Linked DNA regions of Homo sapiens. The protein of the gene in region 2 interacts with the protein of the main gene of each other region in a pairwise test. Each region holds a gene or a part of one and is shown on either strand. Other genes may lie near its edges.

Region 1 (10,838 bases), on a different chromosome or scaffold from region 2:
CAGAAAAGGGTTGAGAATTACTTGAAATGGAAAATCACAGTGTTAAGCTTTTTTAAATCTGATGAGAAACATATCCAAATTATCTAAGTTTCAGGGCCTGGCTGTTTAAGTTCCTTATCAAATAATAATGTAAACTCATGCCAGATCTTCTTGCGTGCTCTATATTTCATTAAGTGTAATTATGTGATTATTGAGAATATAGTGCAGTAGGCCTGTCACTATTTTACATAGTATTGTTAATGTTTTGTTAAAAGGATTTTCTTACATATGTGATCAGAAAAGCCTACTGTTATTATTTTCTAGTAAAATGTAGAATTCTGGCTGTATTTCCCAGTATTCAGTAGCTATGGAAATCTTCCTGACTGTGCCAGTCATTAATCCCATTAAGCTTTGCAGACTGACCTGGCATATATTTAATGAAAAGGAATAAAATGAGGGATCTTTTGCTCTGTCTTGTTTACTTAGGTCCTGGCTATCATTTTGGGCTTAGTTCAAGTTTCCCTTCCTCTCTGAAGCTTCCTATTACTGTTTTAGCCTTTGCTGATCTCATGGAATTATACAATTTTAGAGTTGGAAGGGGCTTTAAAGGACACTTAATCCAGCCTCTCACTTGGGGGGAATCCTCACCTCCAGCATCTCTGACAGATGGTCATTTAGCCATGGCCTAAATTCCTGCACGGAAGGAAAACACACTCCCCTCTAGGGGAACTGATGGCACTTGTGGGGTTGTGAACTTTGAAAGGACTTGTTATCTGTGCCACGGGGTTTAGCCTTGCTGTCTCATGGGTGCTAGTCCCCAGATCACTTTGTCCCTGTCTCTAAAATTACCACTGCCTTCTCTTGTTAATCATATGTTTCTGGGTCTGTCACTAGATTGTGACTTCCCGGCAGGTATTTGTATTTGTCTTTATAGTAACTATACTGTTCCTGGCACATAGTAAGTTTGAAGATACCTTTTTATTGAGTGAATAAGTGAATAGCCTTGTCAGTGAAACTGTAGGGCCAGAGATCGTGATAGAAAGGTTTTAAAAAAATATTTTCTATGTTATTTAAAATAATGCAGAATGCACCAAAACCAGTCCATGGGTACTACTTTTTTGACATATTAAAAAATAGCATAGAAGAGTTTCCATTCATAGTTTCAAAGTCAGGCCCATTAGCAGCGTGAGTGAGACAGTTTAATCCAATTTCATTGACTAAATGTACAGCGGGCCCACCATATTCTCTGGTTTCACATCTGCTGCTTTAGCCAACTGTGGATTAAAAAACTTGAAAAAAAAACCCCACAATAAAATAACAACACAACAATTGAAAATAATGAAAATAAAAAACCGAAAACCGATACAATATAACTTTATAATATAAATATTGTATAGTTATATACAATATAACTATAAACCATTTACCTTGTATTAGGTATTATAAGTAATTTACATATAATTTAAAGCTTATAGGGGGATGTGCACAGGTTATATGCAAATACTACCCCACTTTATATAAGGGACTTGAGCATCTGCAGATTTTGCTATTGGGGTGTCCTGGAACAAATTTCCCTTGGATACCGAGGGACTGCTGTATGTCTTGTATTGTTCTTAGATTGCATCTTGGGAGGTTGCTCCCTTTTGCTGCCTTTTGAATGTTATTTTCAATGCCACGGTAATGATATGGCCAAGGCAGTGATTAGTAATGACGTAGAGTTTAATGCTAGTACTGACATTAAAAAGCCTTACCTGGCTGGGCGCGGTGGCTCATGCCTGTAATCCCAGCACTTTGGGAGGCTGAGGTGGATGGATCACCTAAGGTCAGGAGTTTGAGACCAGCCTTACCAACACGGTGAAACCCCGTCTCTACTAAAAATACAAAATTAGCCAGGCGTGGTGGCGCATGCCTGTAATCCCAGATACTTGGGAGGCTGAGGCAGGAGAATTGCTTGAACCTGGGAGGCAGAGGTTGCAGTGCGCCGAGATCACGCCACTGCACTCCAGCCTGGGTGACAGAGCGAGACTCTGTCTCAAAAAATAAAAAAAAAAACAGCCTTACCTGGAAAAACTCAGCAGATGAAAGTGAACACGTGATCATTCACCTATCATCTCTCTGTTGTGACATGACTATTCTGGTGATGAATAGAATTGAAATCAGAACTCTGTTTCTCAGGGAGGATTAGCACACACTGAGTTTCTGAAAAACAAATGGGCAATAAGGACTATGTAAGAAGTCATCACGTCATTCTATTACATGGTATATAATTAAGCATTTTTTTTTTAATCTGGCAAAGTGACTGTATTTACCATTGCCACCTGGTGCTCTGTTCGTGCCGTGACTAAGCTATGTAAAATTTACCCTTTGAAAGCATTCTTTAGATTATTTTACTTATAAAACCAAGTGTATAGAAATTTTTTTTGACAAAAGAAGAATGGTTTTTGCATTAAAAAGAGAAAAACATTCAGGAAAACTAGTTTGCTAGATTGCAGTTTTAAATTTTTCTTTGATTGAAGATTAAGATGGCACACTTCTAAATTTGATATGTCTTTTTTAGAGTAAGGCAACTGGTATCTTTCAAATTCTTACGTGGGCACATTTTTTCCATTTGATGTATCTTCAGTTTTATACAGGGAAACAGTACCACCAGGTCTGTATCTAACCCTGGCATTGGAAGGAGTGATGGGAATGCTTGGCAAAGAGAAGGCACATTTAATGCTGAAGGGAGGAGTGAATAATGATACCCATGACAGCCAGGGCTAGTTTGCAAAGCCTGAAAGATATTCCAGCTCTTAGCATATGCCATCTCTGTGGGGAATGGACTTGGCTCTCTCTCTGGAAAGATGATCTGGGATCATTTCTGTTGTCATGGAAATTTATTATAATAGTTTACTGTTATTACTCATGTGTTTTGGCCATAACCCTATTCTAAATCTGGTGCCATTCTTGAATATACTTATATGATAGAATGCTTATCATTCATTTCAGCTTAAGAACATCTTCTGTGCTGTATTTCTCCTTCCATGTGCATTTCTTTCAGGACAGGGACTTTTGTATGCATCTTTATACCTTTAAGAGTAGAAATAAGAAAAAGATAATGTCTTCCACAGAAGCAATTTGATTGATTGATAGATTGAGAGAGTGTCTCCCTCTGTTGCCCAGGCTGGAGTACAGTGGCGCCATCATAGCTTACTGCAGCCTCCAACTCCTGGGCTTAAGCGATCTTCCCGCTCCAGCTTCCTGAGTAGCTAGACTACACACGAGTACCGCCATGCCTGGCTAATTTTAAGAAAATATATTTCTGTAGAGACGAGGTCTTCCTGTGTTGCTCAGGGTGGTCTTGATGTCCTGACCTCAGGAGATCCTCCCACCTTGGCCTCCCAAAGTGTTGGGATTACAGGTGTGAGCCATGGCAACCTGGGCTTCCTTAGGAGTAATTTTTTTTTTTTTTTTTGAGACATGGTCTGGCTCTGTTGTCCAGGCTGGAGCGCAGTGGCACCATCTTGGCTCACTGCAACCTCCACCTCCTGGGCTCAAGTGATCCTCCCACCTCAGCCTCCTGAATAGCTGGGACTACAGGCATGTGCCATCATGCCTGGCTAATTTTTTGTAGCAATGGGGTTTCACCATGTTTCCCAGGCTGTTCTCAAACTCCTGAGCTCAAGCAATCCACCCGCCTCAGCCTCCCAAAGTGCTGGGATTACAGGCATGAGCCACTGTGCCCACCCCGGATTAATTTTAAAATTAAAACTTTTAGTATTTATAAGCCAGAAGGGGAAAAATAAAACAAAATCATGGTCCTCAAGTTGCAACATAGGAAGAGTGATTGGGAAGGGGGTGTGAAGTGTTCGAAGTGTAAGGATCGATGAAACTAATCGGTAGGTCTACTCCATGGTATCGACATGCCTTTGTGATCACAGTGTGCCACATTTTCATCTTCTACAGTATAGAAATCATACATCCCCTCTCATCAAGAGCCTAGTCTCTTGATCTTTCTCCTTCTTTAAAAAATTAAATTATTAAAGGAACAGCTGTCATAGTTTAAAAAGTAAATTAGAACTATAGGACTTAAATGAAAAGGCAGTCTCTGCTCCACTTGATTTCTCCTTACCAGAGGTGGCCACTTTAAATGATATCAGCTATTTCTTTTAGCAGATAACATGCTCATGCCATTTTACTTGATATTATTTTCTCAATTTTAGACTTTATTTATTTTCTACCCAGAGGGTGAAGGTTTAGCTCTCTTCTGTCCTTTGCCAATCCCTGACACTATACCCTCCCAAAAACTTCCCTTTCCCCATCTTCCCAATGTAATTACATAACATCTGGGGTTGAATTAATCTTCATCATTTATATTTACTATTTAAATGTGCACAGTTGACCCATTATGATATATTATGTTTACATTTTCTCTTTTTCTACTTAGGTTTTTTCTTAGGATACTACCTGCCTTTTTGTGGTTTATTTAGTTTATAATTAGCTGACCAGTTCAGCCTCAATAGAGCCGTAGAACTCATTTTAGTAAATGGACCGCACTAGGTAATCTATCTAGTCCTTCTGCTCTCCCTCCCCACCCACCTCTCCCTCTTCTCCATGCTCTCTGCAATAAAAATTCTAATCTGAATGTTACTCTCTAGTGTAGCTTTACAGTCATCATTCTGGGATTTTCACTTTACTATCATTACGAGAATTCTCTTTGTCACTTGTTATTAGACCACATATCTTTTTTCTTTTTCATTTTCCTCCTGGTAGCTTTTTGAGAAAGGGCACATGAGAGGTAAATTTTTTCAGAACTTGTATGTCTGAAAATGTCTTTATCCTAGCCCCTGCCTACTTGTTTTAGCTGGATATAGGATTCTAGGATGGAATTTCTCCAAACATGGAAGTTACATCGATTATTTTCTAGCATCTATTGTTGCTATTGAGAATTCACTTGACATTTTGATTCCTGATCCTTTTAATGTGATTTTTTTTTCCCTCCCTGGAAGCTTTTAGATTCTCCTTTTTTCCACACAGTGTTCTTAGTTCATGATGCTGTGTTGAAGGTCATGGCCAGGCCTTTGCTAGGCTGATGGTGCAGTAAGAAATAAAATGAGAAGGGCTGTCGTCACTGCGCAGGAGCCTGGAGTTGCATTATAGGGTTGTAGGTGGACCGTGCAGTGTTGATGGGGCCCTTCTCCCAGCCTAATGTTGGAAAGTCAGTGTGCCAGTGCTTCTTCCCTTGGCCCTTCTCACGTGCAGGTTTCTTACTCTGTAGGCTGTGTTCACCTGCAAACTTCAGATGCTCATGTTATGAAGAACTAGGGAAGCAGTAGGAACCTACATCCATTCCATTGTGTCCTCAGCTTTAGACATATATCCTCTGCATGGATAAATAATTTTGCCAGGTAAAATTTTATCATGTTAGTTCTACACTATGTAATAGAATGACATGGTGGCTTCTTACGTAATCCTTGTTGCCCATTTATTCTTTGGAAACTCAGTGTGTGCTAATCCTTCCTGAGGAATAGAGTTCTAGTTTCAGTTCCATTCAACACCTGAATAGTCATGTCATGACAGATAGGTAGATGATAGACAGATGTTCCCTTGTTCATTTTAATCTGCTGAGTTTTTTCAGGCAAAGTTTTTACAATCAGTACTGGTACTAAACTCTAAGGCTGTTTATATTGGTGTGGGCAGGGTTAAGGGAAACAAACTTGATGTGGTGCAATCCCCCAGGGCTGGCAACAGAAACTGGTACTTTAGCAGTCCTGGGCATGAAGAGGTAAGGAGAGGGAGAAATTACCATAAACTGTTGAGATTGGCCTTGTGGGAGAAGTCTGCTAATCAGAGCTATGGCTTTGGTGAAGAGCCATAGTCAACAAATGACAGTCTGACAGGGAGGAAGACAGCAAAATACATGCCCAGCCTTCACCATCCCACCTTCCAGTCTGCCAGTGTCTGCCAATGGGGTTTAACCCACCTGGAAGCCAGACAGCAAGGGCATCCTTTGATGTCTTCCATAAAGGTCGTCCTCCTGGAGCGCAGAGCAGGGTGGAAGATGGTGAGGAGGTGAGTGGTGAATCACCAGCTTAGTTAGGTTTAAAGATGTTTTTGGAACCTAGGGTTATTATTTTTTGTTAAGAAGGAATGTGCAATTGGAAGGGCTAAGTGTGACGCTCATGGACAGATCCCGCCTTTCAGGGAGTTGATCATCTTTTACTCAGATATTAGAAGTTAGTTTGCAAGTAACTAACTTTTATGTTTTCTTTAGAATGTTAACGTCTACCAATCTTAGTGTGTGTTGCTAACCCTGCCCATATTCTCCCTTCTATTCACTGTAATTCCCTATGACTTGCTAATGAATACCGTATTTTTTTCTGCATATCTGTCAGCTTTTATAGCAGTCTTATGCAGCATCTCAGTGATTTCATATTTATTCTACATTCTTCTCATTTCTGTTCAAGATGAATATATACTCATTGCCTGGTACAGAGTGATTGTAATAATTTCTCCCTCTTGAGGGAAGGCTCTTAGTAGTTGCTTTTCTCTGCAGCCTCTTTTACTCAGAGCTGTTAACTTTGTTTTGATGAGGATGTCCTGCTTTTAATGATGGGTATTTTTGTTTTTAGGTAAGTGACAGTTTGCTCTTTGATACATCAGATGATGAAGAGCTGAGAGAACAGCTGGATATGCACTCAATCATCGTCTCCTGTGTTAATGATGAACCCCTCTTCACGGCAGACCAGGTATAGAGGAGATCCTCAGCAACGCAAGGAAAGGAGACTCTAGAGCTGAAAAACGGCTTCTTGTTATGACAGTAAATGATGGCTGTTGGTTTACTTATCTTTCCTATTTTTTTCTGGTTATACAGGCTTAATAGTTAACTCTTCCACAGAGAAAAATAAGTATTTGTGATCTGAAGCAGAAGGGATTATGTTAGTTGGGAAGGTTTCCAACAGAGGCCTTGTTGAAGATTATAGCAAGGTACCAAGGAAAGGTTGTTGCTTAACCCCAAACCAGAAAAATATTGTGAATTTCCTTGTTTCTTTAGATTTACCCAAACACGGACAAACTGTAAAGTATCTGTGTAGAAATTATTTAGTATCTTCAAAACCCTGGGTAAAAAGCATTAGCATGTATTAAAGTAACATATTGTGTGCCCCAGAAAGAAGTGAGCATTATTCCCGTGGAATGCGCTAATAAGGTCAACCCTGTATTCACTTAAAACCAGTCGAATCAGCTTTCTCATTTTCTGAATACTCTTCCCACCTCTGTTGTATTGTTGAAATGTGATGCCAGAACTTCTTCCTGAAATAAAATGTTCCATGGCTACTCGGACTGTGAGTTCTACCACACTCTATTTTTAGGCTGGAAAGATGAGATCAGTAAGGAGATACATTATGGCAAGCTTGGGAGGAGTACATTAAAAATTTACATTAAAATTGTGTTATTTGGATCCTCCTTAGTCATATTTGTGGTTGAATTGTTCTAGGCGTGGGAAGAATGTGGTGCTTAAAAAAGCAAGGTAATAGTAGGTTGGAAGGTTGTTTTGAGGTAGAGGGTAATCTAGGGATAGACATGACCTTGAGAATTCATTGTCCCCTCACTGACCTGCCTAATACCGTAAACTCTCCCTTTTTTTAAGAGTTAGAATAACAGATTCTGTAGGATCCTTGAGTGGCTCATTGTACCTTATTATATTTCCTGTTTTGGAGACTCTTCTTATAATTAACATAATCCCATCTCCTTCAGATTTGCCTTTGTTTTTCCTTGGTGGAAATCTTACCTGTTAAGCTTGTTAATTCATAAAGCATGGAAATATGCTCATGATGTCTTACTCCTTCATTTAATTGTGTTTAATTTTTTTTTTTAACTTTAGGTCCTTTTTTCTAACTATTGAGTAATTTTCCTGGGTTTCCTTTACATTTTCGCTGAGTTCTATATCCTTCTCAACTTTTAGAATCTGGAAAAGGGCAAGATACTGTTGTAAGATTTGAGCAGCACTGCACTAGACAGTAGATCATTGTTTAAAGTCAAATGTATTTCTGAAGTTTTTCTGCTTTTCACAGCATTTTTCTCTTTGGACTTCTACTTTTTGAGTAATTTAAAAAATCCCTTTTTTTCGTTGAATTAATATATAAAATTATTTTTCTGCTGTTGAAAGAATATTTTGCTGTCATAGAGGTAATTTCCCATTTATATATACTTTTTTTGTGCTATTGTATTTTATAAATTTTATGTCAGAATTTTTGATGAGATACCTTTAAATTGAGCACTTGTATGTCTATGGTAAATTTTCTGTTATTTGCTTTCTTCTAACGATTACTGTATGATCTAGCTCTGGTGTGTCTGAAGTAAATTATTATGTGTTTGTAGCACGATTACCTAGACTTTGCAAGACATGTTAGGGCCTTCTGAATCATGATGGACGTAGTAAATCCAATTCTATTTAGGTTTGTGTTTAGTATATTGTAATTTTTTCTTGATAAACCATGTTCACTCCTACAGTAAAAATTTTGATTATTTGGAGCATCCACACCTGAACACCATTGGTTAATGGAGAATTCAGTGCATTTCTGCTCTGGGTGCCTTAGGTGAGCACTGTGTTCCAGATAGATCATTTTCCTTTTGTATATTTGATTAACAGTGGTGTGTGTGTTTTCGAAGGTTATTGAAGAAATTGAAGAAATGATGCAGGAATCACCGGACCCAGAAGATGATGAAACCCCTACACAGTCAGATCGGCTTTCAATGCTTTCCCAGGAAATTCAAACTCTCAAGAGGTCTAGTACCGGCAGTTATGAAGAGAGTAAGGGAGCCTGCTGAAATCAATGATTTCTGTGCTTTTTGTCTGTATCAAATGTATAGTATGATCATCTCCAGAAAGCTTTGATTTCATCCTCCTTCTGTTTGTGTTTGTGTCCAAATTTACATTTTTGTTGTTGTTGTTGAGACGGGATTTCACTTTTTGGCCCAAGCTGGAATGAAGTGGCATGATTTCAGCTCACTGCAACCTGTGCCTCCCGGGTTCAAGCAATTCTGCCTCAGCCTCCCAAGTAGCTAGGATTACAGGTGCCCGCCACCACGCCTGGCTAATTTTTACATTTTTAGTAGAGACGGGGTTTCGTCATGTTGGCCAGGCTGGTCTCGAACTCCTGACCTCATGATCCGCCCGCCTTAGCCTCCCAAAGTGCTGCAGTTACAGGCGTGAGCCACCATTGCCTGGCCCCAAATTTCCTCTTACAAGGACAGCAATCATATTGGATTAGGGTCTATCCTAATGACCTTATTTTAATGTAATTACCTCTTTAAAGACCATATACTGTAACATTCTGAGGTACTTGGGGTTAGGACTTCAACACATGAATTTTGGGGAGGACACAATTGAGTCTATAAGAAACCCCATCATATTTGAAGTGTAGAATAGATATTCAGTAATTATTTGTCAAATGCAATTCCTGTTTGTACAAATAGTCTTGTGTGTTACTATGAAGAATTTTGGGAACCATGGATCTGTTTGACATATGTGAGAATAATGAACTCTAGAAACTCTACAGTTGATTTTCATGAAAAATGTCTGAATAAATATAACCAGCCTGTGAACAGCCTGAGGCTGGTTGGAAGGTGTGTATCTAATCATTGCCATATGACTGGTCCCTTCCTTGAATAGGCACTGATGGGGTCTGTATCTGCTCAACTCGTGTTGTCACCTAGTTTTATCTTTATGGCATGCCCAGTCCAAAGCTTAGTTACCTAAAGACCTTTGGGTTGTATGGCTTCAACATACAGATGGTCAGACAGACCAAATTCTTTCAGATGGTCTGATTTGGCCATGTTCCTGTAGGTATGGGCTAAACAGTGTTAACGTCCTGACTCCCAAATACAGTCCTGATACCTGATACAGATACTAAAATCTGTATTGGTTTGCTAGGGCTGCCAGAACAAAGTACCACAGAGTGGGTGGCTTAAACAACAGGAATTTATATTCTATAGTTCTGGAGGCCAGAAGTCTGAGATGAAGGTGTTGGCAGGTTTGGTTTTTTTCAGAGGCCTCTCTCCTTGACATGCAGATGGCTGCCTTTTCCCTATGTCTTCACGTGGTCTTCCTACTGTGTCCTGATCACCCTATTTTATAAGAATACCAGTCATGTTGGGTTAGGGCCTATCCTGATGCCCTCATTTAACCTTAATTTACCTCTTTAAAGACCCCCTCTCCACATTCTGAGGCCCTGTGGGTTGGGACTTTAACAGTGTCCTATCTGTCACAAGGGGCAGAAGTGCTGAGAAAAGACTGAAATGGGGTTTCAGGGAATATTGTTCCCTTTTGTCTTCCCAGTTTTTTTAGTCCATTCTTGCACTGCTATAAAATGCCTGAAACTGGGTAATTTATACGAAAAGAGGTTTAATTGGCTAATGGTTCCACAGGCTATACAGGAAGCCTGGTAGCATCTGCTTCTGGGGGGGCCTCAGGGAGCTTTTACTCATGGTGGGAGGCAGAGCTGGAGCAGGTATCTTCACATGGCTGGAGCAGGAGGAAGGGGGCTGGGGGGAGTGCCACACACTTTTAAACAACCAGGTCTCATAAGAACTCTGTCATGAGAACAGCACCAGGGGGATGGTACTAAACTGTTAGAAATTGCCCTCATGATCCAGTGACCTCCCACCAAGCCCCACCTCCAGCATCACATTTCTGTATGAGATTTGGGTGGGGACACAGATACAAACCATATCACCAATTTCAACAAAATTCACAGATCAGGACTTATGTAATTAAGTGTATATTTAGTTTAATTCTTTCAGATCAACTCCTTTCCTGTTCAGAGATATCCCAGAACCCTGCTGAACGGCTTGCAGTTTTTTGTCAGCAGGTGGATTCT
Region 2 (10,234 bases):
TCTTCCCAGGTTCAAGCAATTCTCCTGCCTCAGCCTCTTGAGTAGCTGGGGTAACAGAAGCGCACCACCACACCCGGCTAGTTTTTTTATATTTGGTAGAGATGGGGTTTCACCATGTTGGCCAGGCTGGTCTTGAACTCCTGACCTCAAGTGATTTGCCTGCCTCGGCTTCCCAAAGTGCTGGGATTACAGGCATGAGCCACCACACCCAGCCAATTTTTTTTCTTTTTAAATTCCGGGTTATCATTCTGTTTTCTTACTAACACACTAAGTCACTTATGTTTCAGGAATCCTAATGTAACATATAATATTACAAACCCCCAATCATGTTATCGTTGTCATTTTAACTATAAATATTAAATATGTAATATATATAATATAATATATAATATATAAATATTACCATTTACCTTCCCCTTTGTCTCTCCCTATCTTAAGCCCTTCTAGTCATGCAGGAGTCATTTGCTCAGAGAACTTCTTTGTTCTCCTCCAAAAGTGCATGGGTTAGATGTACTCTAATGGCCAAAAATGTTTTTATTTGGCTGAATAGATCTGTACTGTCTTGGCTGGGTGTGGGGCCCTTGGATCTCAGGTCTTTCTTCTTAGTGCTCCATAGGTGCTGTGAGCTACTGTCTTATTGCCTCCAGGGTTGTGAAGCAGAAGTCTGTTGCTTGTCTGACCTTCTTTCCATTGTAAGCAGCCGTTTTTTGTCTCTGGAAGCTGCAAGAGTTTTTCTTTTTCTTTTTTTTTTTTTTTTTTTTTTGAGGCAGGATCTCTATTTCCCAGGCGGGAGTGCAGTGACGTGATCTCAGCTCACTGCAACCTCTGCTTCCCAGGTTCAAGCGATCCTCCCACCCACCTCAGCCTCCCGAGTGGCAGGGACTACAGGTGTGCGCCACCATGCCCAGCTAATTTTTATATTTTTGGGTAGAGACAGGGTTTTATCATGTTCAGCCCAGGCTGGTTTTGAACTCTCGGGCTCAAGCAATCCGCCCGCCTTGGCCTCCCAAAGTGCTGGGATTAGGCTGGGCATGGTGGCTCATGCCTGTAATCCCAGCACTTTGGGAGACCGAGGTAGGCGGATCACTTGAACTCAGGAGTTCGAGACCAGCCTGGCCAACATGGTGAAACCCCGTCTCTACTAAAAATACAAAAATTTGCCAGGTGTTGTGGCGCACACCTGTAGTCCTAGCTACTTGGGAGGCTGAGACAGGAGAATCGCTTGAACCCGGGAGGCGGAGGTTGCAGTGAGCCAAGATCACGCCACTGCGCTCCAGCCTGGGCAACAGAGCAAGACTCTGCCTCAAAAAAAAAAAATTGCTGGGATTACAGGCATGAGCCATTGCGCCCAGTCTAAGAGTTTTTCTTTATTCTTAGAATTTGGGCATTTCGGGCTGGGCGCAGTGGCTCACGCCTGTAATCCCAGCACTTTGGGAAGCTGAGGCAGGCGGATCACTTGAACTCAGGAGTTCAAGACCAGCCTGGCCAATGTGGCAAAACCCTGTCTTTACTAAAAATACAAAAATTAGCAAAAATTAGCCGGGCGTGGTGGTATGCCCCTGGAATCCCAGCTACTTGGGAGGCTGAGGCAGGAGAATGGCTTGAACCCAGGAGGCGGAGGTTGCAGTGAGCCGAGATCATACCATTGTGCTCCAGTCTGGGTGACAGAGCAAGACTCCATCTCAAAAAAAAAAAAAAAAAAAGGATAGGGTTGGTGGGGGGCCTGTTGTGTGTTGTTAGTTAATTAATCCTATCTAAGACTTGGTGAGCCATTCCTTCATCTCAGGGAAATTTTCTTTCATACTTGTTTAATTCTGACATCTCCACCTGATCCCTTTTCTCCCCCTGCATTTCCTATTATTTCCATATTTGGTCTCCTGGACTTGGCATCCAGGTCTCTCTACTTTTTCACTCAAATCATTGAACCTTAGCTCCATGCCTTGCAGTGGTTCTTCTGTTCAGACTTTCAGACCATTACTGATTTTTCATAATGTGACCTTCTTCATTTTACCTGTTAAGTGTTTTAATGCTCTGATTAATGTTTTAGAAAGACCATTCTGGCAGCTGTTGGGAGAGATTGGAGAGGAATACAGAGGAAGTGAGGACTGGTTAGGAGGCAGTTTCAGGTGAGAGATATGGTGGCTCAGACAGGGTGAGAAGATGGAGATGAGAGAACAGGTAGGATGGAGGAATGCTTTACATGCAGTAGCCGTAGGACTTGGCGGTGGTTTGGACCTGGGAGTTAAGAGAGTGGGAGGGGGACAAGGATGTCTCTCAGGTTTCTGGTCTATTAAACAACTGAACAGATAGAGATGCTGTTTGTTGAGATGAGGAGTAGAGGAGGAGGCCATGTCTAGAGTGGATCTTGGGCTCCTCTCTTTGGACCCCTTAGGTTTGCAGTACCCCATGAGACATCCAGGGAAAAGCAGTGACATGCAAACATGGCCTAGGGTTTGTTCCCCCCCTCAGCTCTATGGGAAAATTGGGCTCCATGGGAATGCTGTTTAGGGATGGCATTTGCTTGCAAATGACAGTGGCTTAAACAGATAGAAGTTGATTGGTTTCACACAAAAGAGTTTGAAAGTTAGCCACTTGGGCCGGATGCAGTGGCTCACGCCTGTAATCCCAGCACTTTGGGAGGCCAAGGTGAAGGGGGCCTGCCCCTCCACACTTGTGGGTATTTCTCGTTAGGTGGAGACGAGAGATTGAGAAAAGAAATAAGACACAGAGACAAAGTATAGAGAAAGAACAGTGGGCCCAGGGTACCGGCACACTCAGCATGCGAGGACCTGCACCAGCGCCGGTCTCTGAGTTCCCTCAGTATTTATTGATCACTATTTTTACTATCTTGGCAAGGGGAGTGTGGCAGGGCAACAGAGTGTTGGTGGGGAGAAGGTCAGTAGGGAAACATGTGAGCAAAGGAATCTGTATCATGAATAAGTTCAAGGAAAGGTACTGTGCCTGGATGTGCATGTAGGCTAGATTTATGTTTCACTTTACACAAATATCTCAGTGTAGCAAAGAGTAACAGAGCAGTATTGCTGCCAGCATATCTCGCCTCCAGCCACGGGGCAATTTTCTCCTATCTCAGAATAGAACGAATGGTCGGCTTTACACCGAGACATTCCATTCCCAGGGACAAGCAGGAGACAGAAGCCTTCCTCTTATCTCAACTGCAAAGAGGACTCCCTCTTTCACTACTCCTCCTCAGCATAGACCCTTTATGCGTGTCGGGCTGGGGGATGTAAGGTCTTTCCTTTCCCACGAGGCCATATATCAGGCTGTCTCAGTGAGGGGAAACTTTGGACAATACCCAGGCTTTCTTGGGCAGAGTTCCCTGTGGCTTTCCACAGTGCATTTTGTCCCTGGTTAATAGAGAATGGAGAATGGCGATGACTTTTACCAAGCATACTGCCTGCAAACATATTGTTAACAAGGCACATCCTGCATAGCCCTAAATCCATTAAACCTTGATTCAATACAGCACGTTTCTGTGAGCACATGGTTGGGGCTAAAGTTACATACAGATTAACAGCATCTCAAACCAGAACAATTTTTCTTAGTACAGATCAAAATGGAGTTTCTTACATCTTCCTTTTCTGCATAGACACAGTAACAATCTGATCTCTCTTTCTTTTCCCCACATAAGGCGGGTGGATCACCTGAGGTCAGGAGTTGGAGACCAGCCTGGCAAACCCCATCTCTACTAAAAATACAAAAAATTAGCCAGGCGTGGTGGCAGGCACCTGTAATCCCAGCTACTCGGGAGGCTGTGGCAGGAGAATTGGTTGAACCTGGGAGGCAGAGGTTGCAGTGAGCGAGGATCACACCATTGCACGCCAGTGTGGGTGACAGAACAAGACTCCGTCTCAAAAAAAAAAAAAAAAAAAAAAGCCAGCCACTGGACATTGCCATTGTTGGCTTAGTAGCCCTCTCGTATCAGGGCTGTAGGAGAGGATCTCTGAAGATCCTCTCGAACCTACTCTCAGATGGCCACTGCTGCTTCAACCACCACATCTTATGTGAGGTGGGAAGAAAGAATGCGGGGCAAAATGAAAAAGAAAGAGAAACGGTCAGGTGCAGTGGCTCACACCTGTAATCCCAACACTTTGGGAGGCCAAGGCAGGAGGATCTCTTGAGCCCAGGAGTTCAAGACCATAGGCAATATAGTAAGATCCCATCTCTACCAAAAAAAAAAAAAATCATCCACGCATGGTGGCACACGCCTGTAAGCCCCAGCTACTCAGGAGGTTGAGGCAAGAGGATCGTTTGAGCCCAGGAGTTTGAGGCTGCAGTGAGCTATGATCGCACCACTGCACTCCAGCCTTGGGGGACAGAGCAAGACTGTCTCAAAAAAAGAAAAAAAAGATGCCTGTAATCCTAGCACTTTGGGAGGCCAAGGCGGGCTGATCACCTGAGGTCAGGAGTTCGAGACCGGCCTGGGCAACATAGCGAAACCTCATCTCTACTAAAAATACAAAAATTAGGCCAGGTGTGGTGGCTCATGCCTGTAATCCCAGTACCTTGGGAGGCCGAGGCAGGTGGATCACCTGAGGTCGGGAGTTCGAGACCAGCCTGACCAACATGGAGACACCCCGTCTCTACTAAAAATATAAAATTCACCAGGCATGGTGGTACATGCTTGTACTCCCAGCTACTCGGGAGGCTGAGGCAGGAGAATCACTTGAACCCAGGAGGTGGATGTTGCAGTGAGCCGAGATCCCGTCATTGTACTCCAGCCTGGGCAACAAGAGTGAAACTCCGCCTCAAAAAAAAAAAAAAAATTAGCTGGACCTGGTGGCAGGCACCTGTAATCCCAGCTACTTGGGAGGCTTAGGCAGGAGAACTGCTTGAACCCAAAAGGTGGAGTTTGTAGTGAGCCAAGATTGCACCACTGCACTCCAGCCTGGGCGACAGAGTGAGACTCCATCTCAAAAAAAAAAGAAAAAAGAGGCTGGGTGCAGTGGCTCACGCCTATAATCCCAGCACTTTGGGTAGGCCAAGGCGAGTGGATCACGTGAGGTCAGGAGTTCAAGACCAGCCTGACCAACATGGTGAAACTCCGTCTCTACTAAAAATACAAAAATTAGCTGGGCATGGTGGCAGGCACCTGTAATCCCAGCTACTCGGGAGGCTGAGGCAGGAGAATCACTTGAAACCAGGAGGCAGAGTTTGCAGTGAGCTACGTTCACACCACTGCATTCCACCCTCGGTTACAGAGTGAGACTCCGTCTCCAAAAAAAAAAAAAAAAAAGCATATACGGCATACCTGTTCCACTTTTGCACAAATATTTTATTTCTAAAGTATGTCTGGGCTCTGGACTAGGGTGAATGAAGTTCAGATCCCAGCCCTACTATTTCCTGGCTGTAGAATCTTGGTCACTTACTATTTGTTCCAAACCTTTTTGTCATCGTCTGTAAAATGAGAATGGTAATATTAGCGTGCACTGTTTGTGGGAGGAGGACTGGCAAAAATATGAGAGTAGGAGTTTGGGCTCTTGAGCTTGGGCCTGGCCTTCAAATTTCCACTCTTTCACTCACTAGCTAAGGGGCCTTGGGCAAGTACCTTATCATGACTGTGCCTGTTTCCTCAAAGAGAGTCATGGTAGTAGTAGTACTCAACCGATAGGACTGAAGTGACTATTGCATGAGTCAGTATTGGCAAAGAATTCAGAATAGTTCCTGGCATACAGCACTGTGGAAGCATTAGCTAGTATTATTATTTCTTATATTGCTGTTGAGCGCTTGTCCTAGTGCTTGGCACATAGTAACTGCTCAATAAATATTACTTTATATCATTAAAATATTAGAGGCTGCCCAGCCAGTTCCTGAGACATCTACTACAAAAGAATTGTTCATGGTTTGATTTTGTTTTTTACATGATTTGGATGATACAGGAAGAGGGACTGGGAGTTGTTTGTTCCCCTGCAGGTAGCCCGGCTTCAGTAGAAGGAGAGGAAGCCGGCCCTGAGGTCTGGGTTATCATCCCCATTCTTATAGCACTTTGTTCTGTTTGCCCAGGCCCATTGCTAGAAGACTGGGACATAATCAGCCCCAAAGATGTCATTGGCTCCGACGTGTTGCTGGCTGAGAAACGGTCATCACTGACGACTGCCGCCCTGCCCTTTACACAGTCCATCCTCACTCAGGTGTTTTCAGGGACCCTAGGGACCCAGCTGTGGTTGGAGGGCAGAGCCTTCCTGGCACCCTGGTTCTGAGCATGCTGGTTGGCATCTGCCCCTAGTCCACACAGCTGATGGTGGCCTCCCTCCCTCCTCATAGGTGGGCCGTACCTTGTCTAAGGTCCAACAAGTGCTGAGCTGGTCGTATGGGGAAGATGTCAAGCCCTTCAAGCCACCCCTGAGCGATGCTGAGTTTCACACGTACCTGAACCACGAGGGCCAGCTCTCCCGACCCGAGGAGTTGCGCCTGCGGATCTATCATGGCGGTGTGGAGCCCTCGCTGCGAAAGGTGAGCATCCTCAGTCATCTGTTGGGTCCATCACTGCTGCACTCATTAACAGCTCCTGAGACACATGCAGTCAGCCACACTGCTGTGGGCAAGGGTGGAGATGTTACAGGGCACGAAGTTCTCTTTAAGGAGGGGCGAGCAGTCGGAGGCCTAGCAGACTTAGAAGGAAGACAGAGGCCCAAGGGGGGTGGGTGGGTGGCAACTGATAGACATTGGGGTATGGTTTATCTGGAGAACTCCAGCCTCATCCCTTTCACCCCTGGGCAGGTGGTGTGGCGGTACCTGCTGAACGTGTATCCAGATGGACTGACAGGCCGAGAGCGGATGGACTACATGAAACGCAAGAGCCGCGAGTATGAGCAGCTCAAGAGCGAGTGGGCCCAGCGAGCGAACCCTGAGGACCTGGAATTCATCCGCAGCACGGTCCTCAAGGATGTACTGCGCACTGACCGGGCCCACCCCTACTATGCGGGGCCTGAGGATGGCCCACATCTACGGGCGCTGCACGACCTGCTCACCACCTATGCCGTTACCCACCCACAGGTGTCCTACTGCCAGGGCATGAGTGACCTTGCCTCACCCATCCTCGCTGTCATGGACCATGAGGGCCATGCCTTTGTTTGCTTTTGTGGCATCATGAAACGCCTGGCCGCCAACTTCCACCCTGACGGCCGCGCCATGGCCACCAAGTTTGCACACTTGAAGCTGTTGCTGCGACACGCTGACCCTGACTTTTATCAATACCTGCAAGAGGCAGGCGCTGATGACCTCTTCTTCTGTTACCGCTGGCTGCTGCTGGAACTCAAGCGTGAGTTCGCCTTCGACGATGCCCTCCGCATGCTTGAGGTCACTTGGAGTTCGCTGCCCCCTGATCCTCCTGAACATGAGGTAGAGCTGGTTGGACCCCCCAGCCAAGTGGCAGACGCTGGTTTTGGTGGCCACAGGGGGTGGCCCGTGCGACAGAGGCACATGCTGAGGCCTGCTGGTGGAGGAGGTAGTACCTTTGAAGATGCTGTTGACCACCTGGCCACAGCCAGTCAGGGGCCTGGTGGTGGGGGGCGTCTCCTGAGACAGGCCAGCTTGGATGGCCTCCAGCAACTCAGGGATAACATGGGCTCCAGGAGGGACCCTCTGGTCCAGCTGCCCCACCCAGCTGCCCTTATCAGCTCCAAGTCCCTCTCTGAGCCTTTATTGAACTCCCCAGACCCACTGCTCTCCTCCTTTTCCCACCCTGATTCCCCATCTTCCTCATCTCCACCATCCACCCAGGAGGCCTCTCCCACTGGTGATATGGCTGTAGGATCCCCCTTGATGCAAGAGGTAGGCTCCCCGAAAGACCCTGGAAAGTCCCTGCCACCTGTACCACCAATGGGCCTGCCCCCACCCCAGGAGTTTGGCCGGGGGAACCCATTCATGCTGTTCCTCTGCCTGGCCATCCTGCTGGAGCACCGCGACCACATCATGCGCAATGGGCTGGATTATAATGAGCTGGCCATGCACTTTGACCGCCTTGTGCGAAAACACCACCTGGGGCGCGTCCTGCGCCGGGCTAGGGCTCTCTTTGCTGATTACCTGCAGTCAGAGGTGTGGGACTCAGAGGAGGGGGCTGAGGCCACAGCCGCATCTTGATCAGGCTTTCTCAAGCCCTCCATCGGCCCCACCAGATCTCCATTCTTTGCCATGAGGGCCAACACATGAGACCCCACCTCCCTCCCTGCCTGCCAGCCCTAGACTTGTTGGAGCATAGAGCCCTTCCTCCCCAGGCCTAAGTATGTGGAGCTCTGCTTTGGCACTGCCCCGCAGAGGCCACGCCTATTTATTCTGTTTCTGTTGTTTTGTTTTTAACAACTATACTTTGCACACATGAAGGTCACTGTGGTTTGTGTGTTTCTCTGCCTCCTCCCTGGGTTTTGCTGTAGATGGAGTCCTCAGGGGCCCTTTACCTGATGGAGGGGAAATACTTCACTTGGTGGAGAGAGGCTCCAGCTTCCCCCTTGTGATGGGGAGAGTGGATGCTGACAATCAGTTCCCAAAGGTGAGCCCAGGTGGAGCACTGCTTGAGGAAGGCCTGAGTCTGTTTTTTTGGTACATCCATCGGCCTGTAAGGGTCTGTATTATGGCTGTGAATATATGTTTTCAGGACAGCCCCCTGGATGAGAGATAAGAGAGTTCCTGGCTCAAAAAAGGACAAGATTCTTTACTGAGATTGGGAAGTATGGGCTACTTAGAAACGTTGGAGCAGCCACCCCTGGCATTCCACATGTCACCATTTCTAGGATCTTGGCCTCTCTGTGAGGTTTATGCACCAATGCTGGCAGCCCTGGGCAGGGGCCTCGGCCTCCTTTTTGTTTTCCACTTCAGACAGGTACCGTGCAGATGTTAACAAGGTTTGAGCGAGGTGCATCTCACACAAGTGTGAAAGCCCAATCATCACATTGTTGAATTACAAAAGGATCTAGGGCTCCTATTCTTGTCACTTGCTTTGGAGCCAGTTTGAAAGACTGGCCTAGCCCATGCCTAGCGGCCCTAAACTGGGATTCCAGCTCACAGCACCTGTCTTAACCATTTCAGCAGTAGAAACCACTTATTTACCTTCTCCATCTCACTAATATGGACAAACAACAAGCACTGATAAAACGCAGGCCCTAATAGAATTCACTTCGTTATTTGGAGGATAATGATCAAAAAAAGGTCCTTTTTCCCACTGACATGCTCAGAGGGTGGGATTCTCTCACAGGCCAGGTGCTGTCATCCACAAAGGATGGGTGAAATAACTGGGGTCCTCAGGTCACGGTCTAGCCACACCAGCTTCTCCCAAGTACTAACCAGGCTTGACCCTGCTTAGCTTCAGAGGTCAGACAAGATCTGGCATGTTCAGGATGGTATGGCTGTAGACCAGGCTGGGTTCTGGCCAGAGCTGTTGCACTAGGCAATGCTGCCAGAGATGAGGAGGCATCAGGGCAGTCATCCCTTCTGCTGTTTGCCCCAAGAATGCCATACAAACCTGGGGATGACCCTTAAAAGTCTCCCGTCACCCCCAGTATTGGGGGGAAGCTGACTATTCCTCAGATGATAGCCCAGTCACTTGAAGAACAGGACAAGACTATTCTGTGTCTAGGGGGCTCAAGCACTGTGTGTGGGTCTAACGAATGCATTTTGTGGAAATGGGCTCAGACTCCCCAAAGGGCCATCCAACCTATGGGAGTGTCTGGCCTTCTGAGGTCCTGAAATGTCTCTTTTGTCAGTAAACAGCTAATACCCTCTGGGATGCATTCTGTGATTTATGAGCTCAGGTGTTTGAAGGACCAGACAAGCCAATTCTGTGGATAGTAGTTTGGGACCTCTGAGAGATAGAAGAGTCCTTTCTGTGAATAGGAGGCTCAGATACCCTGAAAGGCAGAAACCTCTAATATTCCTCTAGGATACTTGGGGTTTCTGGTTCCTGCAAAGATGGCAGACAGCACAAGCTACTGATTCCTTTGCCCGAAACCAACTCTGGAGAAACTAGAGAGGGAAACATGGGTTCCAGAAATTGCAACATAGCAATGAGAGACCCATGGGGAAATGGAAGGCTGTCTTTAACTGGTGTGTGTTTTGACGGGCGGATGGCCAGAGGCAGTAAATAGAGGATAGGTTAGGGAAAAAGATATTTAAGTTCTGGCTCTCACCTCTCCCCTATATTGCCTTGGGGAGGTCCTTGTTTGCCCCCTTCATTGCATTAATCATCCAAACCACTGGTACACATGTCTGGGGGACTAGGATC
Region 3 (10,726 bases), on a different chromosome or scaffold from region 2:
GGCAAAGAAACATGTTTTGGGGTAAAATATTTTGACTTTCTTCTTTGTTATGCCAGAGTCACACTAGAAAGTAAGTCACAATATATAGGGTTAAATAAAACCCATCTGATGAGAATTTATGGTTTGTAGGGCATGACTCCCCAGACCCCTCAGATAGGAATTTGGGCAAGATGAAAAAAATGAGAGCTTAGTCCTCACTGGCCATATATATATATATATATATATATTTTTTTTTTTTGTAGAGACCGGGTTTCATCATGTTGCCCAGGCTAGTCTCAAACTCCTGGGTTCAGTCTCCTGGGCTCAATCAATCCACCAACATTGGCCTCCCAAAGTGCTGGGATTACAGGCTTGAGCTACTGTGCCCAGCCTATGATTTTCATATAAACATATGAAGCATTTTGATTCTCTCAGATTTTACACTCAGAATACACTATCTACAGTTAATTCTGAACTTTTTCTCCTACTTAATTATATTATAAGAATACTAAGAAGATGAGCTGAGATAGGGTCTTGCTATGTTGCCCAGTCTGGTCTCAAACTCCTAAGCTCAAGTGATTCTCCTGCCTCAGCCTCTCAAGTAGCTGGGACTACAGGCAGCTGCCACTGTGCCCAGCTTTAGGCAGAAATTTAGAACTTGATCTCTTTATTTCATTTCTCATATCCATTAGATTAGCAATTCCTGTTAATGAGATCATTCCCAAAATGTATCTCAAATCATTCCATTGTCCTATGCACTGCCACCTCTTAAGTCCAGACCATCATCATATCATTCTTGGAATACTACAACAACTTCATGTTTTTCACATTTTGCATTTTGTCACTGCCCATTCCACTTCATTTTCCGTATTACAGCAACAGGGGTATTAACTCTTACATCTTTTCAGTGTTTTTCCATTGCTCTGATAGAATTCAAATTCTGTCATAATCCAGAAGCCCCTGCAGGCTCTGCCTTAGGCTATCTCTCTAACCTCATCTTTACTCATGCTTTGTTTTTTTTTTTGTTTTGTTTTTTTGTTTGTTTGTTTTGAGACAGTCTTGCTTTTTCACCTAGGCTGGAGTGCAGTGGGGTGATCTTGGCTCACTGCAACCTCCGCCTCATGGGTTCAAGCAATTCTCCTGCCTCAGCATTCCCAGTAGCTGGGATTACAGGCACCACCACCACACCCGGCTAATTTTTGTATTTTTAGTAGAGACGGGGTTTCACCATGTTGGCCAGGCTGGTCTCAAACTCCTGACCTCAAGTGATCCGCCCGCCTTGGTCTCCCAAAGCACTGGGATTACAGGCTTGAGCCACCACGCCTGGCTGTTTTCTTTTTCTTTTTCTTTTTTTTTTTTTTTTTGAGACAGGGTCTCGCTTGAACCCGGGAGGCGGAGGTTGCAGTGAGCTGAGACGGCGTCACTGCACTACGGTCTGGGCGATGCAGCGAGACTGTCTCAAAAAAAAAAAAAATTAAATTAAATTAAAAAGTTAAATGGAACTGAATAGATCATGTAAGAATGTCTTCATAGCCCAGCGCAGTGGCTCACGCTGTAATCCCAGCACTTTGGGAGGCCGAGGCGGATGGATCACCTGAGGTCATGAGTTCGAAACCAGCCTGGCCAAAATGGTGAAACCCCCATCTCTACTAAAAATACAAAAATTAGCTGGGCGTGGTGGCGGGCGCCTGTAGTCCCAGGTACTCAGGAGGCTGAGGCAGGAGAATGGCGTGAACCCGGGAGGCGGAGCTTGAAGTGAGCTGAGTTCGGGCCACTGCACTCCAGCCTGGGTGACAGAGCAAGACAGAGGCGGTGGCTCTCACCTGTAATCCCAGCACCTTGGGAGGCTGAGGCTGGCAGGTCACCTGAGGTCAGGAGTTCAAGACCAGGCTGGTAAACATGGTGAAACCCCGTCTCTATTAAAAACACAAAAATTAGGGACAGGCGCGGTGGCTCACGCCTGTAATCCCAGCACTTTGGGAGGCTGAGGAGGGTGGATCACTTGAGGTGAGGAGTTCAAGACCAGCCTGGTCAATATGGTGAAACCCTGTCTCTACTAAAAATACAAAAAATTAGCTGGGCATGGTGGTGCATGCCTGTAGTCCCAGCTACTAGGGAGGCTGAGGCAGGAGAATTGCTTGAACCTGGGAGGTGGAGCTTGCAGTGAGCTAAGATCCTGCCACCGCACTCCAGCCTGGGCAACAGAGTGAGACTACATCTCAAAAAAAGAAAAATTAGTCAGGCATGGTGGCACATGCCAGGAGAATCGCTTGAACCCAGGAGGAAGAGGCTGTAGTGAGCCAAAATCGTACCACTGCACTCCAGCCTAGGCAACAGAGTGAGGCAACAGAAAGAGGCCTCTTTCAACAGGCCAGGCGCGGTGGCTCACGCCTGTAATTCCAGCACTTTGGGAGGCCAAGCGGGGGCAGATCACCTGAGCTCAGGAGGTCGACACCAGCCTGGGCAACAAGGTGAAACTCCGTCTCTACTGAAAATACAAAAACTTAGCTGGGCATGGCAGCGCATGCCTGTAGTCCCAGCTACTCGGGAGGCTGAGGCAGGAGAATCTCTTGAACCTGGGAGGCAGAGGTTGCAGTTAGCCGAAATCATGCCACTGCACTCTAGCCTGGACTCCAGCTCAAAAAAAAAAAAAAAAAAACCAACAAAGAAACAAAAAAAGAAAGATATTTATGGCTGGGTGTGTGGCTCACGCCTGTAATCCCAGCACTTTGGGAGGCCGAGGTGAGTGGATCACTTGAGGTCAGGAGTTTGAGAGCAGCCTGGCCAAGATGGTGAAAACCCCTTCTCTACTAAAAATTCAAAAATTAGCTGGGTGTGGTGGCAGGCACCTGTAATCGCAGCACGACACCACACCCAGCTAAATTTTTGTATTTTTAGTAGAGACGGGGTTTCACTGTGTTGGCCAGGCTAGTCTGGAACTCCTGACCTCGTGATCCGCCAGCCTTGGCCTCCCAAAGTGCTGGGATTACAGGCGTGAGCCACCTCGCCTGGCTGATGGCAGTGTTTTGAACCAAATAATTTGTTCTTCCAGACCAGGTGAACACCCTACCCAAGGGCAGATAATCCACAGATTGGCTAATGAATTGTATAATCTGGCTGGAAAAAATAAGTAGGGTCAAGCAGTCTTTTATCCTTAATTTTGAACTATGAAGCAGAGGAAGAGTCTGGCACGTAGCTGCAGAGGCAGAATGAAGTAACAAGATAGAGGTTAATTACAGCAAATTGGGTCAGTCAGATGAAACTAAAATCAGACGGAACGCTCAAATTTTGGAATTTTAAGTTTATTATTAAAAGGACACTTTACAGAGGTGTGAGGCTAGGCGTGGTGGCTCACGCCTGTAATCCCAGCACTTTGAGAGGCCAAGGTGGGGGGATGACTTGAGGCCAGGAGTTCGAGACCAGCCTGGCCAACATGGTGAAACACCGTCTCTACCAAAAATACAAAAATTAGCCGGGTGTGGTGGTGGGCGCCTGTAATCTCAGCTACTCGGGAGGCTGAGGCATGAGAATCGCTTGAACCCGGGAGGCAGAGGTTGCAGTGAGCCGCGATCGCGCCACTGCACTCTAGCTTGGGCGACAGAGAGAGACTACCTCTTAAAAAAAAAAAAATGCCGGGCGCGGTGGCTCATGCCTGTAATCCCAGCACTTTGGGAAGCCGAGGCGGGTGGATCATTTGAGGTCAGGAGTTCAAGACCAGCCTGGCCAACCTGATGAAACCCCGTCTCTACTAAAAATACAAAAATTAGCCGGGTGGTAGTGGCGCGCCTGTAATCCCAGCTACTCAGGAAGCTAAGGCAGGAGCATCTCTTGAGCCTGGGAGGCAGAGGTTGCAGTTAGCCGAGATCACGCCACTGTACTCCAGCCTGGGCAATAGAGTGAGACTCTGTCTCAAACCACCACCACCACCACCATCACCACCACCAATAAAAAATACAAAGCGCCACTAATAACAGAGCTAGTAAAGATGGATGGGAATATAGGTGGAAGTACAATCCCCTTTTAATTGCAACAAGGTTCGCCAGGTTGCTTAGGGTTGGGCAAACTGGAGATCACTGACACGGAAAACAAGAAAACCCTTATTGTTTATAGCTGTTATGTATGAATAGGTTATTAGCCTTAGGAAAATTATTTGTGCCGAATACGGCTTTTGAGTAAGCAAAAAATATTAACGTCAAGTTGAATGTAATTGAAGCGACTTATTGGGCGTGGGGTGGGGGGTGGGGGTTGAAAGCCCAAACATAAGGCGAGCACAGATAATTTATTTAACAAGGCTATGGGGTTGGTGGGGGGCTCGGAAAAAAATCAGCGGCGGAACCTGCTCTCAGCCACCTTGCACCAGGACACAAACACTGACTCAAAAATGAAACGAGTATCATCTCTAAGTGAATGTGAGTGCCAAGTAGAAAGCTCGTATCCGATTTATTATCAAAACGTCTTTGTACCATTTTAACATCCATTCCAGGAAGAAAAAACCTATTGGGAATATGGTTAATTTGTAATTAAGTGCTATTTACCCAAATTAAAGAAACAGGTAACAAAAAATTTTAAAAGCCGGCGAAATACTATTTAATTTACTCAGGAACGCTTTAGAACTCTTTTAGTTGGTGGGTGGGAATGCGGGCGGGGAAGCGCACTAAGCCGAACGCTGGGGCAAAGGTTTCCTAAACAGTTACCGAGAGGTAACTCCCCCTTCATCTGGGACGTGGCTCAAGATTACAGGTGATCGCGGTGCCCCGAGGCGCCAGGAGGCAACTTTCACCTGGGGGAGGCGCCGGGCGCCAGCGGGCCAAGCGGCCGGGCCGCGGAGCCCACTTCACTTGGGAGCTGCCCCAGGCCGGGGGTCGACACCGCGTCCCCTCCCTTAGCCTAGCTGCGACCCAGCTTTAGGGCCTAAGGGCAAATCGAGCGCTCGGTCCTCCCAGCGCCATGTGCGCGGCCCGCCCAGGCCCTTGGCCGCCGTCGCCGCGGGGGCAGGCCGCGAGCCAGCCGCGAGCCACAGAGGCCTGGTGCGCGCTCCGCCCCTGAGCCTGCAGTCGGGGCGGCCTCAGCCAGTGAGCCGGGAGTCGTCCCCTTCGTCCTCCCTCGCACTCGGAGGGCAGCTGGGGCGGGGCAGACCCTCGGGCCGGGCGGCACCCGGGCGGGCGAATCCGTCAGCTCCCGCGGGAGGCCCGGCGAGAGAAGGACCCGGTGAGTAGCCACGTCACGCTCCTCAGGGAGGCCCCGCCCCGTGCTCTCGGGCCGCCCCTCTTCGCCGTCTCCACGCCTCCGCGGGCAGTTACCAGCTTTGGCTGCTCGCGCCTCCCCAACTCGGGTAAAGCTCCTCGGCCTCGGCGTGCTGCGCCTCCGCGGCTGCCCTGCGCCAGGTGAGGGCTCGCGGCTCCCGGCTGCGGCTCCCGGCGCGTGGTGGCGGGCTCGGGGCGTGCGTCGCGGAGAGGACGGGGCCGGCGGGCGGTTGGCGCTCCGTTCGGTGCGGGGAGGGGCGTCACGCCGGGCGCTGCGCGGCCTCGGCGGGCGGCGGCAGCGGCGGCCACGGCCGCCGGGCTCTCGGGTTGTCTGTCCCCAGTTGGAGCCGGCCGGTGTCCCGGCGGAGAGACGGGCAGTCGGGTTCCCTGGCCTCGGGGCCACCCCGGCTGGGGCGGCTGGGGCAGAGGGACGATGTCTACTCGCGCCCCGATGCCCGCCGCCCATTCTCGGGAGGATCCGCCCGCGGTGACTGCTGAGAGGGAGTCGCTGTTGGCCGCGGCGAACCGGCCGGCCGAGCAGCCGCCCCCGCCCGAATGTGAGGGCAAAGAGGCGGCGAGGGAGGAGAGGGCCGCGGCCGCCACTAGCGCTGGGGCGCGGGGAGAGCCGTCGCCGGCGCTGGTGCTGGGACGCAGCGTGCCCCAGGCGGCTGTCCCCGTGAGGCCCCTGGCGCTGCACCTGGCGCACAAGGCGCGTGGGCCCGGGGGCCCTTTCGGCGGGGAGCCGCCACCGCCACCGCCGCCGCCGTCGCCGTTGCCGCCGTTGCTGCGGGATCCGCCGGCCGAGGACGCCCGGGAAGAGGTGGCAGCTGGCCCTGCGGAAAAGCGGCAGCCGCCGCTGCTGCCGCCTAAGGGAAATCCCTGGACCAAAAAGCCTCCCCAGCACCTGTCCCCAGACACGACAGGTCCGCCACCGCCCCCGCTGGAAACCCTGGAGGCAGGTCTGTGGTTGCTCTGCGTTGGGCACTGGCAGGGTGCGGGCAGGGGCGACTTGCGGGACTTGCCGGCGCGTGGCGGCGGTAGCGGGCACCAGGCCCGGGTAACGGCAGGCCTCCCCTCCCTGTCAGTCGGAGGTAATTTGTTCCAAGGTGTCATTCACTCTGCCTATTTACAGACATGGGCATCTGGGAAGGGAGCGGCAGGAAGAGGTGGGACCTCAGGTTCTCCTTGCCTGATGGGGGCACGGAGGTGGTAGCTTGGCGGCGCATCCCTGCTGGCGCGGTTGCGATTGTGTTTTGTCCCCAGTGTTAGTGACTTGGGAAAGTAGCTAACTTTAGATACTGCAGTGCTTCGTATGGGAAAGTTTTGGTAGACTTTTTTTTTTTTTTTTTTACATAAAAGGATTGAAGCAAGTCAGAGCAAGGGGATTTATTCGTAAGTGGAAGCGCGATTGTAGTCTTTTGTGAAATAAGATGAAAAAAGGTTTTCAAAACACTGCTGAGCAGTCATATTAAAAATGAGACTTTAAATGTGGTTTTTAAAGTGCTTTATGGGGGGAGGGGGGAGGGATAGCATTAGGAGATATACCTAATGTTAAATGACGAGTTGATGGGTGCAGCACACCAACATGGCTGCACATGTATACATGTGTAACCTGCACGTTGTGCACATGTACCCTAAAACTTTAAGTATAATTAAAAAAAATAAAGTGCTTTAAGTTATAAGTGTGCTGGAAAATAATTGAAATAGGATAGTTGACATGCGAGCGTGGATTGCACGTTAGGTAAATGGTTTTCTAACATTGTCAGCTCTCCTTCCCTTTAGAGGAGATAAGATTATGCCACTATATTTGAATGCTGACCAATGCTGTATGGCCGTCGGTGCTTTATTTTGATTGTAGTAACTGCAACTTAAGAAAGTAAAAATGGGCCGGCGCGGTGGCTCACGCCTGTAATCCCAGCACTTTGGGAGGCCGAGGCGGGCGGATCACCTGAGGTGAGGAGTTCGAGACCAGGCTGGCCAATATGGCGAAACCCCGTCTCTACTAGAAATACGATCATTAGCCAGGCGTGGTGGCGGGCGCCTGTAATCTCACCTACTTGAGAGGCTGAGGCAGGGAGAATCGCTTGAACCCGGGAGGTGGAGGTTGCAGTGAGCCGAGATCGCGCCACTGCACTCCAGCCTGGTCGGCAGAGTGAGACCCACTCTCAAAAAAAAAAAAAAAAAAAAAAAAAAAAAAGTTAAAATGGAAATAAAAACCATGACAAAAAGCAGTATCTGGCCGGGCGCGGTGGCTCACGCCTGTAATCCCAGCACTTTGGGAGGCCGAGGCAGGTGGATCACCTGAGGTCAGGAGTTCAAGACCATCCTGACTAACATGGAGAAACCTTGTCTGTACTATAAATACAAAATTAACCTGGCGTGGTGGCGCATGCCTGTAATCCCGGCTACTGGGGAGGCTGAGGCAGGAGAATCGCTTGAACCCGGGAGGCAGAGGTTGCAGTGAGCCGAGATCGCGCCACTGCACTCCAGCCTGGGCAACAGGAGCGAAACTCCGTCTCAAAAAAAAACACAAAAAAACAAAACCGTATCTTTCTAAATTAAGTTGTAAATGACTTGAACTTTTTATATGCAAATGACAGCTGTTTACTTGCAAGTCTTCATTTTTATTTAAAATTAAAGGTTAGCAGCAGAACAAGAAATATTTGAGCGTGTTTACTGGCTTGTGAGGATCAAATGCGATGAAGAGGTGGTATAAATGTAAGGCGATTGGCTGTGCGCGGTGGCACACGCCTGTAATCCCAGCACTTTGGGAGGCCGAGGCGGGTGGATCACCTGAGGTCAGGAGTTCGAGATCAGCCTGGCCAACATGGCGAAACCCCGTCTCTACTAAAAATACAAAAATTAGCCGGATATGGTGGTGCGTGCCTGTAATACCAGCTACTCAGGAGGTTGAGGCAGGAGAATCGCTTGAACCCGGGAGACGGAGGTTGCAGTGAGCCAAGACTGAGCCACTGTATTCCAGCCTGGGTGACAGAGCAAGACTCAGTCTCAAAAAAAAAAAAAAAAAAAGTACGGTGATTGTTACAAGCACCCATTATGTTATGTTAACATTTCTTCAGAGGAACTCTCCAAAGAGGGAGATATGTGTTGAGTTAATTCATTCATTTGCCTTTGCACAGAAATACTCCTCATTAATTGTTGATAAATTTTGACACTTGCAGAAAAAAAGTTTGCTCTGGATTTAATATTGGCATAATTCCTTCCTCGCTATAAAGAGCTGTTTGTTTACTCCTATTACTAACTAAAGAGAACATGGTTAAGTGAAGACCTCATAAAGTTTTTCTTTTTTTTCTTTTTTAAAGCCCAGTGGCAAGCACTCTAAAATTTAGCAAAGAAAGAAAACCCTAGTGAATCATCTTATTTGCTGTTTCACCTCTCTACTTCTAGACTTACAGACAATTAAGTGAATTACCAAGTAGGAACTCTTTGTTGATCATAAAACCAGTATCATAGATTTTAAAACTTCGAAGCCATACATGGTAGTGTGTGCCTGTAGTTTTAGCTCCCTGGGAGGCTGAGGCAGGAAAAATCAGTTTTGCCCAGGAGTTTGAGGCTGTAGTGTCCTGTCATAGTGCCTGTGAATAGCCACTGCATTCTAGCCTGGGCAATATAGCAAGACCACGTTTAAAATAATAATATTAATAATAATAATAATGATAATAGAACTTTAAAAACTGTCAAGGTAAGCCTTGGGAACTTTAATTGCAAATGACCTGTGAAAAATATTTAACAGTTAAGCTATTGGTGCCTTCATTCTCCAGTCTTCACTGGAGATTAAGAACACTGTGATACTAGTTGTATGGTATGGTTCATGGAAATTTCAGTTTTGCTGTTGTCTTGTGTAGGCAACTCTTTCTGTCTTTGGATGGAATCCATTCTGCACTGGCAGGAAGACCATCTTTCAGACCTGGCATAGTGTAGTAACCATGGTCTCTTCCCAACACTGACTCTGCACTGTTCTCCCACAATTAATTTCTTTCTTTCTTTCTTTCTTTCTTTCTTTCTTTCTTTCTTTCTTTCTTTCTTTCTTTCTTTCTCTCTCTCTCTCTCTTTCCTTTCTTTTCTTTTCTTTTCTTTTCTTTTCTTTTCTTTTCTTTTCTTTCTTTTTTCAAGAGATGGAGTCTCTCTGTGTTTCCCAGGCTGGTCTTGAACTGCTGGCCTCAGGCGATCCTCCTGCTTCCCAAAGTGCAGGGATTACAGACATAATCAGGCTTTCTATTTTCTTAAGCAAATTTACAACTTCAGGAGTAAAGAAACAGGACCACAGTCTATTTGCAGTTAAATAACTTAGGTAACTTAGATAAAAGAGATTGTGGTGTAGAAACATACTGTTTTGAGAGACTTGGGTTCTAGTGCAGGTATTGTTACTAACTGGCTAGTTGACTTCTGGCAAGATTTCTGGGCATTATAAATGAATAACATGGATAGACTCATTTCCTCTGGTTCATAATACCAGAGTGCCACTTATAACCTGGCTGCCTTGGCTTCCATTTATATATTTATTTAATATTATTTAATTCATTTAAATAAATACATTTTACATTAGTTTATTTAAATAGGTAGATAGATTGTCAGTCTTGCTCTATTGCAGTGGTGAGATCATAGCTCACTGCAGCCTTGACCTCCTGGACTCAAGCAATTCCCCTGCCTTGGCATCCCAAGTAGTTGGGATGACAGGCACGCATGTCATTCCATGGAATTAGCCATGCCCGGCTAGTTATTTTTAATTTTTTTTTGTAGAGACAGGGGCCCCCTTTGTTGTCCAGGCTGGTCTTGAGCTCTTGGGGTCAAGCTATCCTGCCTCAGCCCCCACAAAGTGCTGGGACTACAGGTGTAAGCCACCCTGCCTGGCGGCTTTCTATTGTCTATTTTCTTTCTTTCTTCTTTTTTTTTTTTTTTTTTTTTGTTATATTGAGACAGAGTCTCGCTCTGTCGCCCAGGCTGGAGTGCAGTGGTGCAATCTCTGCTCACTGCAAGCTCCGCCTCCCGGGTTCACACTGTTCTCCTGCCTCAACCTCCTGAGTAGCTGGGACTACAGGCGCCTGCCACCATGCCCGGCTGATTTTTTGTATTATTTTAGTAGAGACGGGATTTCACCATCTTAGCCAGGATGGTCTCGATCTGCTGACCTCGTGATCCGCCGGCCTCGGCCTCCCAAAGTGCTAGGATTACAAGCGTGAGCCACTGCGCCCGGCCTTTTTTTTTTTTTTTTTGAGATGGAGTTTCATTCTTGTTGCCCAGGCCGGAGTGCAATGGTGTGATCTCTGCTCACCGCAACCTCCACCTCCTGGGTTCCCCCGATTCTCCTGCCTCAGCCAGCCAAGTAGCTGGGATAACAGGCAAGCGGCACCATGCCTGGCTAATTTTTATATTTTTAGTACAGGCAGGGTTTCTCTATGTTGGTCAGGCTGGTCTCGACTTCCTGACCTCAGGTGATCCTCCCACCTCCACCTCCCAAAGTGCTGGGATACAGGTGTGAACCA

Evidence for each region.
Region 1: the proteins of TBC1D25 (region 2) and FEZ2 interact in a two-hybrid assay, tested with the Homo sapiens proteins (one study listed by BioGRID).
Region 3: the proteins of TBC1D25 (region 2) and LARP1B interact in binary tests that used the Homo sapiens proteins (3 or more experiments, as listed by UniProt).

The regions. Positions count from the first base shown.
Region 1 is NC_000002.12:36,579,222-36,590,059, reverse strand, and holds part of FEZ2 (fasciculation and elongation protein zeta-2), read left to right. Parts: intron 1-6,590; coding exon 6,591-6,707; intron 6,708-8,628; coding exon 8,629-8,770; intron 8,771-10,838. UniProt on the Homo sapiens protein: Involved in axonal outgrowth and fasciculation.
Region 2 is NC_000023.11:48,552,876-48,563,109, forward strand, and holds the end of TBC1D25 (TBC1 domain family member 25), read left to right. Parts: intron 1-6,021; coding exon 6,022-6,149; intron 6,150-6,282; coding exon 6,283-6,471; intron 6,472-6,738; coding exon 6,739-8,100; 3' UTR 8,101-9,734; downstream 9,735-10,234. UniProt on the Homo sapiens protein: Acts as a GTPase-activating protein specific for RAB33B. Involved in the regulation of autophagosome maturation, the process in which autophagosomes fuse with endosomes and lysosomes.
Region 3 is NC_000004.12:128,056,039-128,066,764, forward strand, and holds the start of LARP1B (la-related protein 1B), read left to right. Parts: upstream 1-5,273; 5' UTR 5,274-5,363; exon of another isoform or gene 5,364-5,655; coding exon of another isoform or gene 5,656-6,181; intron 6,182-10,726.